Homo sapiens: one gene and its partners. The protein of the gene in region 1 purifies or fractionates together with the protein of each later gene. This does not show direct contact. Each region holds a gene or a part of one and is shown on either strand. Other genes may lie near its edges.

Region 1 (4,194 bases):
CTTTCAACATTTTCCTCGGATGATGAAGCTCTGTCATTTTATATAAATTCCAGTTTCCCCTCACTCTCAATATTAAAAACTCTTTAAAGAAAATTACTCCTAGTGTTGAAACTTTTCCTTATTCCCCTAGTATTTTTATTTAGTTCCCCCCAAATCCTCTCATGACAGAACTCTTACACACACACACACAAACACACACACACATACACACACACACTCACTCACACTTGTGGTCCAGTAATACAGTTCACTTTTCATTTAGTCCAGTCCAGAGTTCCTTTTCCAGCAGAGAACCCTCTCCTTCTTCATGTTCTCTTTGTATATTCCAGTATACAACTCATCCCCTGGTCCTTTCCTCTATTCTTGTTTCATCAGTATTTCTCTTCTGTTTTTTCTCTGCTTATTCCTCTCTTTCTCAATGTCTGTTTTTATAGCCAATATACTATATGATCCAGAAAAGAGCTCCCATTATACATATAGGTCAAAATAAGAACTGAGCAGACCTGAAAGGGTGGGACAAATTGCTTGTTGTCCCACAGTTTGGGCATATGCCCCTAAGTCCCCGCTACCAAGGGATCCCCCCTCCATCCTCTCTCTTCAGCTCATCTCTTTCTATATGTGTCTGGTTACACCTTCAGGTCCTATCTCCTCCAAAGTCATCTCTTTGATGGCCTGTCTTACTCTTTTTTCTGCCTTAGGACCATCCTATTCTGACAATCATACTAATCTTTTTTTCTTAAGATCATCCTGCTGGCTTCCAGGCTCCCGCCCTGGGCCCTTTTATCTTGTGGACATTTTCTCCCACCTTCCAGTTGCTGCTCTATCTGTTCCTTATGATCCCCCTTAGAAGATGCTATTCTGACTTCAGTTACTGGGTCTTCCTGATCCAACCAGGTACAAAAAAGAAAACAACAGCTGAATCCCCAAAAGCAAAATGCCAGGGCGAAAGGAGAAAAGAATAGGAAGACAGGCCCCATGGCAGCCTTTGGGGTCTGAAAGAGTGATTAACCCTTTGGACAATGTCAGAAAGGGCCCCATAACTGATAATCAAGAATTATCTCTGCTGGCAAAGGACAAAAGCACTCTTGCATTCCCTTCTTGTCTCTGTTCAAGTCAGCTCCCAGGCCTACTGGGGTCATTTCCACCTCTAAGCTGGATGCAATGAATGGTTGAGCAGAAGCGGTTCCATCCTGATACTAAAGATGTTGAAGCATCAGAGTCCCCACACTTGCAAGTGGTGCCTATTTTTCTTAAATAGGGCCCAGCAAATTGTATAAGCTTTGGAACTCAGAACACCTGAATCTGTCTAGCCAGAAGAAAGCTTTTCTGGCTTCTAGGAGTTAAGGACCAATAGAGAGGTCAGGAGGGCTCTAATTGAATGGACTCTAAACAAGGTTCAGTTTAATACACCCTGCCTCTATGGAGAGGGCACCATTCATGGAGGGTCCAGGGCCCTTGAATTATCTGTCAGCTGAATCTTAGCTGGGTTCTGCACCCTAGATCTTTGGGCCACACCCAACTCAGCCCAGCCTTTAGCCTCTCTCTTGGTCTCCTAGTCAGCACTTGTCCAGCGTGTGCTAGGCCTCCTGTAGCTAATGTTCTCTTTGGCCCCCTACTCAGTTCTTCAAGGCTTAGCTCTGAATCTGCCAATTCAGAAGTCACGGCTTTGAGACGCAACCCCCCCCCCCCAACACACACACACACACACACTCTTTTTGCCCCTGCATCCACAGAGCCTATTCCTATCCTTTGAGCCTTTAGGGTCAGTATGATCTCCTTAGAAGCCAGAACGTGCCCTCCATTGCTGAATTGACAGCTGCTTCAACATACCCCCATCTTGGTGCCCCCGGAAATCCCATCCTTGTAGCTTGTCTACCCCTGACAGAGGAGGAAAAAAATGAAGGAATTCTGAAAAGGAGACAGGGCCAAGTCTTGATGGCTAGGATGCTGAGGGAAAGGCACTAATGTGAAGGGAGCACTGCAAAGTCTTCGGTTAGCCTTCAGGGCTATGGGGACAGAGCAGGGCGGGGGTTCTGGAATCTAAAGAGGCTGTATTTGGAACTGAATTGGAGTCAGAACCTGCGCGCGATCTAAAGGTCTGGGACTTCAAGGCTCCAGGCAGGTGCCGAGGTGCCGAGGTTCCGAGCAGGTTCCTGTCTGGAATTTCCAGGTGAACCGGCCTCCCGCCAGCCCTGGTCGGCCCTAGCACTTACCGGGCAGACTTGGAAAAGTCTCTGAGAAGTGCGGAGGCGGAGGTGGTGGGGGCTCTGCCACTTTCTCCCGGGCCGGCAGCAGCTCATCAGCTTCCAGCCCACCCTCTGGGCGTCGGCCGCCTGGCTCGGGGTTGTTTCGGGCGGCAGTGGCGGCGGCGGCGGCAGCGGCGGCGGCGAGCTCCTGGGGCCCGTAGAAAGCGTCGGGCGGCTCCGCGAAGCTGGGCAGCGCGGTGGTCAGCGCCACCATCGAGGGCACAGCCTGACCCAGCCCCGCGCAGAAGGTGTTGGTAAGGCGGCCGGCGAAAGAGGCTAGCGGGGCGAGGGGCGGGAGGCCAGCGGGCAGCGGCGCAGGGGCCAGCGCCTGCGGCAGCACGAGCGGCCGGTAGGGCATGAACATGGGGTAGCCGGTGTACAGCAAGTGGCCGGAGCGCGGCGGCGGCGGCCCGATTAGGGAGTCGATGGAGAAGGCAGTGCCCGGGCCCCCGCCGCCGCCCCCGCCGTTGCCCCCAGGGGCGCTACCGCCTCCGGCCCGCTGCATCTTGTTCGGAGCTGCGGCCGCCCCGGGGCGCTCCTCTCTGGGCGCCTCCGTGCGCCCCGCGGCTCGGGCGCCCCGCGCGGACACGCAGGGCTCGCTCCCTGGCTCCCGGGCCGAGGTGGCGGCGGGGCGCGGGCTCGGCGCAGTGTGGCTCCGGCGCCGCGCTCCCTCTCTCTCATAAGGAGGGAGGGGGCGGGCGAGCAGGCGGGCTGGGGGTGTCGCCCTCCGGACTCATCCATCTTCCTCAAATTACGCTTCATTTCCTCCCTCCGCCCGCCGCCGCCGCGCCCGGCTCCCGCTCCCTCCGCAGAGCCCGTTCCCAGCGGCCCGGCCGGCCGGCCCGGGACCCCCACCCGCCCCCCGCGGCCCAACCAACTATTATTAATGGAGATTGATGAGGCCGGACACGCCGCTTTGTGAAAGTTTGCGGCCGACGAGAAGGCGGCGGCAGCTGCTGGGCCGGTCCCCTTCCCTCCACCCAGTCCACCCCCCCAACTCAGCCCACCTGGCCCGGGCTCCGGCTAGGAGGGCAAGCGGGAGGTGGCCCAGGCTCCGATGGGGCGGCGGGGCCGAGCGTGGATGGGACACCGGGCGGCAGGCGGAGAGGGCGCACCAGCAGGGACAGGCGGCGGGGCCGGACCTCAGCACCCCTCTGCTCCGGGCCGCCGCCCTCCTTCGGGCCCCAAGTCATTCCCCGGCGTGCCTCCCAGCTCCGACACCCCTCCCCTGCCCGTGGAGCGGACGTTGTGGCGGTCCCCAGAGCAAGCTCCGGCGCGACGGGCGGGACAGCACGGCCACCGCCCCCTCCAGCGAGAGCGCGGGGCTGAGGGAGGCGAGGCGGGGCCGACAGGGGGCGCGCTGGGCCCGCCCGGTTCTGCGGCTTAGGGCCACTCTTACGGGGCCCCTTTCCTCCTATCTGCCCCATTCGCACTCTGGCCTCTGGTCTCTATTCTCTTGGCATTGGCTCTTCACCTTCTTCCTCATTCCCTCCTCCATCTCCAACTTCCCCTAGTCCCTTTCTCTTGCCTCGGTGGGTAATTTCCTTGAGTGCCCACACTATGCCAAGTACTTACCATTCCTCTGACCTTTCCCCTCCATCTTTCTCCCGTCCTTTACATTCTTTTTCTTCCTCCCACCCCTCTTCCCTTTCCCGTCCTCGTTTCTATTCCTATTCCTCTGATTATTTCTTTCCCATCTCTCATTCCTTATCCCAGTCCCTCTTACTCGATTTTTCTCATGTCTTTCCTTTATCTGTATCTCTTGTCTGTCTGTCTGTCTATCTCTTGTCTCCCTCCCTCGCTCTCTCTCCTTCTCTTCTGCTATTAATTTTCCCTGATTGGCTCCCCAGCTCCAGCGCCGCTGATGAGCCCTATTCATTCCCGGGCCTGACACTCACGACCTGCCCTGGCTGATTGCTGGGGGCTGGCCCCAGGAGCGCTGATGAGC
Region 2 (3,609 bases), on another chromosome or scaffold:
TACTAAAAACACAAAAATTAACCAGCTGTGGTGGCAGGCGCCTGTAATCCCAGCTACTTGGGAGGCTGAGGCAGGAGAATCTCTTGAACCCAGGAGGCAGAGGTTGCAATGAGCTGAGATTGCGCCATTGCAATCCATCCTGGGTGACAGAGTGCAATTCGGTCTCAAAAAAAAAGTTAAATTTAAAAACAAACAAAAGGCTGGGCGCGGTGGCTCACGCCTGTAATCCCAGCACTTTGGGAGGCTGAGGCAGGCGAATCACCTGAGATCAGGAGTTTGAGACCAGCCTGACCAATATTATGAAACCCCGTCTCTCCTAAAAATACAAAAATTAGCCGGGCATGGTGGTGTGCGCCTGTAGTCCCAGCTACTCGGGAGGCTGAGGCAGGAGAATCGCTTGAACCCAGGAGGCAGAGGTTGCAGTGAGTCAATATCGCGCCATTGCACTCCAGCCTGGCCAACAAGAGCGAAACTCAGTCTCAAAAAAAAAAAAAAAGAGAATAAAAACAAACAAAAAATTAGCCTGAGGTCAGGAGTTCAAGACCAGCCTGTCCAACATGGCAAAACCCTGTCCCTACTAAAAACACAAAACTTAGCTGGGTGTGGTGGCATGTGCCTGTAATCCCAGCTCCTCGGGAGGCTGAGGCACGAGAATTGCTTGAACCTAGGAGGCAGAGTTTGCAGTGAGCCGAGATAGCACCACTGTACTCCAGCCTGGGCGACAGAGTGAGACTCTGTCTTAAATAAATTAATAAACAAACAAATAAATAAAGTAACTTTGATGGGCTCACTCAGAGGTTCTGTCTATAGCCAAACCTCACTCAGGTTCCCTCAGCTCTTTTCCAGTTAGGCCTTGGACTTCCGTGTTCACCTCTGCATCGTCCAATTTTAGCAAGAATACTGCTAAGTCAGCTTAGCCAGTCCCTCATCCTCCACATCTGATTGCCCCCGATCCCTGATGGGGGTCCTCATTCTCCACTCTCCCCCAGGCGCTGTCTGACCACCTTGGCCTGCCCTCAGCAAGAATCCCTTTAGGTTGGTCTTGTCAGAATACCCCCAACCCCCAGTGCTTTCTCATGGTAATGTCCCATCCACTGCCCCCAACTCTGCTCGTTGGCTATAACCCCCATGGTGTAGAGTTCAGCCCAGTTCTGATCTAAGGTCACTCTTCCCCTACAGCAATAGTCTGGAATGCAATATGTTTTTGCTATTTTAACGACTGTCTAGTTCTGGTTTTCTTTGATCACTCTCCTGCTGAAAACTGACCTTTCATGGTTTCAGCTCCAGTTCTCTTGACTTTTTTCTTTCTTTCTTTTTGAGACAGAGTGGAATGCAGTGGTGCAATCATGGCTCACTGCAGCCTTGAACTCCCGGGCTCATGTGGTCCTCTCACCTCAGCCTCCTGAGTAGCTGCTCCACCATGCCAAGGTAATTTTTTTTTTTTTTAATAGAGACAGGGTCTCAAACTCCTGGCTTTTAAACATTTTTTTCTTTTTCTTTTTTCTGAGACAGTCTCACTTTGTTGCCCAGGCTGGAGTGCAGTGGCATGCAATGGAAAAGGGATGGACCCCCGAGCTTTGGCAATAAAAGTAGACTCACTGCAGCCTCTGCCTCCTGAGTTCTCCTGCCTCAGCCTCCTGAGTAGCTGGGATTACAGGCATGTGCCACCATGCCTGGCCAATTTTTGTATTTTAGTACATTTCTGTATTTTATAACAGCACGAGGAGGTCATTATTGTCATCCCTGTCACAGATTAGGAACCCAAGGCCCCTGAGGGTTGTCTCCAGTCCACAATCACTTAGTGACAAGTGGCAGAGCCAGGGCTGGACCTCAGGTGTGCGGCCCCAGAGCCTGGGCTCTGATTCACTGTGCTACGCAACCTCTCTGATGGGATAAGTATCCTAGCTCACATACTATGAAGCTAACCAATATAAAATTGCCAATATTTGGCCGTTTTGACCAATAAAAGCAGCACATTTATATGGTTCAGTATACGAAGCACTTGGATATAGCAGAAAACTCAATGGCCAGACACAGTCTTTGCCCATCGAGAGGAAACAGCCGTAGACTGTGATGATGGGGGAAGAACAGGAAGCACAGAGGGACCAGGATCTAACCTCCGGGCGTGTCTGTGAGGCCCCTGCTGAGGAAGTGATGTTTAAGGGAAGACCTGCAAGAGGAACAAGAGCTGAAGGGGGAGATTGGGGATGAGGATAAGGGAAGGGGCTTCCAGGCCAAGGCACAGTCCTGCAACAGCATAGGCTAAAGCCTGACAAGTAAGAGAAAGAGCTGCCCACGCTGTTGCCTCCATGCCTAGCAATTATTAACACCCCACACAGTGCAGGTGCTCAATGAGGATGTGTCAGAGAATCAGTGAAAAATGGAAAGAAGTTGCCAGGTGTGGAGGCTCATGTCTGTTAATCCCAGCACTCTGGGAAGCCAGGGTGGGAGGAAGACAAGGCCAGGAGTTGGAGGCTGGGCACAGTGGCTCACGCCTATAATCCCAGAACTTTGGGAGGCCGAGGCAAGTGGACCACTTGAAGTCAGGAGTTCAAGACCAGCCTGGCCAAGATGGTGAAACCCCGTCTCTACTAAAAATACAAAAAATAAAAAAAATTAAAAAAATAAAAAGCCGAGCGCCTGTAATCCCAGCTACTCGGGAGGCTGAGGCAGAGAATTGCTTGAACTTGGGAGGCGGAGGTTGCAGTGAGCCAAGATTGTGCCACCGCACTCCAGCCTGGGCGACAGAGCAAGACTGCGTCTCAAAAACAAAAAACAAAAGACTTTATGTTTGAAAGCCCTTAGGAACACTGTCTAGCACAGGGTAGGCGTGCTCGCGAAGAAAAGAAGCGTTTCTCAAGTGTGGTGGACTCATGGAATAAATGACTAGGTGTCTCTGAGGACCGGTGAGTGATGTTTGCCAGGCAGAGGTGTGGGGTGGGGCTGACATTTGGGGCTGAGAAAACTGATCTGTTCACCTGCAGACAGTGTCGGGGTGGGGGCAGTGTGGGATTCACAGGTGACATGGTGGGAGGAGAGGCCACAGGGAGAAAGAACTAAACTATTTAGCTGAGGAATTTGGCCAGATCGCAGAAGCCATCATAAAATTTCATTTTATTGGCCGGACACAGTGGCTCACACCTGTAATTCCAGCACTTTGGGAGGCCGAGGTGGGCCGATCACCTGAGGTCAGGAGTTCGAGTCCAGCCTGACCAACATGGTGAAACCCCGTCTCTACTAAAAATACAAAATTAGCCGGGCATGGTGGCACATGCCTGTAATCCCAACTACTCAGGAGGCTGAGGCAGGAGAATCGGTTGAACCCGGGAGGTGGAGGTTGCCGTGAGCTGAGATCCCACCATTGTATTCCAGCCTAGGCAACAAGAGCGAAACTCCATCTCAAAAAAAATTTTCTTTTCATTTTATTTTATTATTTTTAAGTAGAGACGGGGGGTCTCGCTATGTTGCCCAGGCTGGTCTTGAACTCCTGGGCTCAAGCAGTCCTCCCACCTCGGCCTCCCAAAGTGCTGGGATTACAAGTGTGATCCACCATGCCTGACCCATCACAGAATTTTAAAAGAGGGAGTGATATGATTATGGTTTTGCTCC
Region 3 (3,609 bases), on another chromosome or scaffold:
ATTAAGACTTGATACGGCACTGAGAGAACAATACAATTGATGAAGCATTATATATTTTTGGAAAAATATATTGCAAATGAAAATGGATCCCCACTGCTCTTAGGATAAAATCCAAGGTATTCTTAACAGGACATCAGAAGCCCTTTGTGGCACCTGTGAAAGCTGGCCCAACAAAACTTGTTGTCGCTCCACTGGTAGATCCCCTCCCCAGCCTGCACCTCCATCTTTATGTTTTTGCATACACTGTTCTCTCAACTCAGGCCAACTTATCCCATAGACCCCTGGACACCCACTTTTCCAGGTTATCTCCTATTCATTCTTCAGGGTTTAGCTCAGATATTCCTTAATCGCAGGCTGCATGCAATGGTCATTCTCCATGCTCCTCAGCAGCCTTTACTTCCGTATCACAGCTCTCATCACATTGAGTTGTGACATGCTGCCTGGCCTGTCTCTCCCTCTAGTCTGTAAGTAAAGTTCAGAGCAAGGCTGGGTCTTATTTGCCTTTGTAGTCTTGTCATTGCTTGGCATTTATTAGGAGCCTGATAAATACTTGTTGGATGCACAAAAGCATGAATGGATTTTGAATTTTTAAAAGGGCATTTATAATGAAATATGCCCATCCAAATCTAAAAATAAGCATACAGCTAGGTTTTAACAGAAATGAGGCCAGGTTTGAGAGAAATGTAACTGTTGGTCGAAAGCTAGACCAATTCAGTAATGAGCATTTTTTCATATGTAAAGACACTGGAAGTGAAAGAAAGATGGTTAATATATAGCCTAGATCCTTAACAGTTTTCTAATATAGACATGTCAAGAAAGAATTAGCTTACCAAAAGATTGTGCTTTTTCGACCAACAAATACAATCTACTGTATGATTCATCATAAAGGTCACTTTTTTTTTTTTAGCCAAAAAAGGAAACTCAAAATGTATACAATTTTTTTAATGAACTGACAATAGATGACTTTCATCTATAGATCTGTGTATTTCTTAATCGGTGTCATTAAGTTTTAATCTTAGCCATTTTCAGGTTTAATATTAAAAGTTCTTTGTATCATCTTTGGCCGTCTGCAGTTGTATATAAGCTTTGTGCTAACTTAACTGCTTTTTTAAATCTGTGCTCACCATCTTGAACTCCTTTTGGAAAAAAGCTATGTTTGAGATGGATGAAGAATGCTGGAGTTTAGATTGTGCATTTCCTTGTTGCGAAAGGTGTAACTCTGAAAAAACTAAATTACAGTTATTGTATATTAAACAGCTATTCCTGAAATTTACTTGGAAGCTTTTGAAAGAGTAGCTCAGTATCTGAGGAGAAGTTCTTCACGGTCCAAGAAATTAGGAAGTTCCATAACATGTGCCAAGGGATCTGGCAATTTCTACTACCTTTAGTTGCTTTATCCCACATGTCACAGGCCATAGTCTAGATGCAAAAAATATCTTTTTATTTCAATAACACATCAGAACATAGTTTTAAAAGTGCTAGAGATAGAAACTTTAAATTAAAATTAAAATGCGTGTAGTATTAACAGCGCAAATGTCACCACCAAGGAAGCAACCAGATGAGCCAATGCCTCCTGTGCAGTGTTAAGTTTGCATGTGCAGAAAATTACTGTTGTTGTATTGTGGTGTAGTACTCTACCTGGTAGCTGGCAAGTGTGTTTGGCATACATTGTAAGCCACTTCCTAATTTTAGAAGTGTTATGCTGTGAAAAAAGTGCAATTAGAATTGGAGATATTTGACAAAAGTCAGGGTGAATAAATAGTATAATAATAGTTATATAAAGTGCAATAGGGGTGCAGAAGAAGGAGCCATAATTTTAACCAGGAAGACTAAAGAAGGCCACAGTGGAAGTTGATATTTGAGCCAGAAATCTGTAGGAAAAGAAAGAAAGAAAACCCGTTTTGGGCTTTGGGCTAATGCACAGTGGCATCATAGTGCATGGTATGTTTAGAGAATTGCATTTAGGCTTGAAGCTGGAGCCCAGATGGGTGGGAGGTGCTATAGCAGATGGTGCTGGGAAGATAAGACCCAGGTCAGGGTGAGTCTGCTTGAGGAGGTTGGACTTTATTCTGCAGGCAGTGGGAGGCCAGTGAAGATTTGGAGATGGGGTGAGGTAGGGCTGACTTATCTACTAGGCACAGTGTCTAGAAACCACAATAATTTTAGGGTCCACAAAAATGTTTACATTTTAATTGCCTTTAAAAATCAGAATAAAATAAATAAGTATAACAATAATGAATTCATCTTTATTCAAATGCAGTCATTAAAATATATGTTTTTTTTTCTGTTAATAGAGGAATAGGTCCATGAAGGTAAAAATGCCTACGGCCTACAAAAGTCATACTGCAGCCCCAGGGAAAAGAGGGCAAAATGTGAATCCTGGAGATAATTTACAGCTGTGTGAAGGATGAATCCCACCGGTGGTTCCTAACTGTGATCTGGCTGCATCAGATGTACCTGAGTAAACACAGATTCCCTACTATGCAGCCGTAAAAAGGAATGAGATCATGACCTTTGCAGGGACATGGATGGAGCTGGAAGCTGTTATCCTCAGCAAACTAATGCAGGAACAGAAAACCAAACACTGCATGTTCTCACTTATAAGCGGGAGCTGAAGATGAGAACACATGGACACATGGCAGGGAACAACACACACTGGAGCTTGTCAGGGCATGGGTGGGGCGGGGGAAGGAGAGCATCAGGAAGAATAGCTAATGGATGCTGGGCTGAATACCTAGGTGATGGGTTGGTCTGTGCAGCAAACCATCATGGCACACGTTTATCTATGTAACAAACATGCTGCACATGTACACCAGAACTTAAAATAAAAGTTGAAGGAAAAAAAGGAAAAGAAAACACAGATTCCTGGGCCCCAAGCATGTTTGATTTAGGAGGAAGGGGAGGGGTGTGTTGGAAGACAGAGCATGCCAGTGGAGGACCAGGAGAACAATCAAATTGCAGTTTAGCTGATGACCTGAGAAACAACGAAGGCCCTAGCCAGGGCAGTGTCAGTGAGACTGGGAAAAAGTCAGCCTGGGGAAGCATTGCACAGGTGAATGACAGACTGACAACCAACCAATGGTGGGGTCTGAGATACAGGAGATACCTGGATGGCAGCAGGAGAGAAGGTAGTATTTCTAGTCTCAGCCAGAAGTGGAAAATGTGATCAACTGTTTTTCTCTGCTGCAAGTTCACCATGAACATACTTGTGGAAGGGCTGAGAATACTGTTAGCTTGGCACAAGCTTTCACCAGGCTTTCAGCTTTTTGGTAGGCTGCCCATTAGGCTGTGCAGATGCCCAGGGGAGTGCTGTGGAGGGGTGTGTGGTAGAAGCAGGCCCTGTGTTTGCCTGGAGGAAGAGTGAGATAATGGGTAGAAATGCTAGAACTGAAGCTCTGTGGCTCTGGGCTGAGTCCAGGCCTAAGGCCCGAGGCCAGTACGGTGTCTGTATCGGGTGGCCCCTTCTCACTGGGAGAGCCCTAGACTCTGGTTCCTTGCTTGTTGATGGAGGCACAGCAAGAATAATCAAACACCTGAGAAACTTGGAAGATGATTATTGAAACCAGAATTTTTTTTCAGAATTCTCTGGAAAAAATAAAAAAAACAAAA

Evidence for each region.
Region 2: the proteins of GBX1 (region 1) and QPRT purify together in Homo sapiens (affinity purification with mass spectrometry; one large-scale study listed by BioGRID and IntAct). This does not show direct contact.
Region 3: the proteins of GBX1 (region 1) and DNAJC6 purify together in Homo sapiens (affinity purification with mass spectrometry; one large-scale study listed by BioGRID and IntAct). This does not show direct contact.

The regions. Positions count from the first base shown.
Region 1 is NC_000007.14:151,164,798-151,168,991, forward strand, and holds the start of GBX1 (homeobox protein GBX-1), read right to left. Parts: upstream 2,898-4,194; 5' UTR 2,752-2,897; coding exon 2,214-2,751; intron 1-2,213.
Region 2 is NC_000016.10:29,685,670-29,689,278, reverse strand, and holds part of QPRT (nicotinate-nucleotide pyrophosphorylase [carboxylating]), read right to left. Parts: intron 1-3,609. UniProt on the Homo sapiens protein: Involved in the catabolism of quinolinic acid (QA).
Region 3 is NC_000001.11:65,316,033-65,319,641, forward strand, and holds part of DNAJC6 (auxilin), read left to right. Parts: exon of another isoform or gene 1-116; intron 117-2,294; exon of another isoform or gene 2,295-3,609. UniProt on the Homo sapiens protein: May act as a protein phosphatase and/or a lipid phosphatase.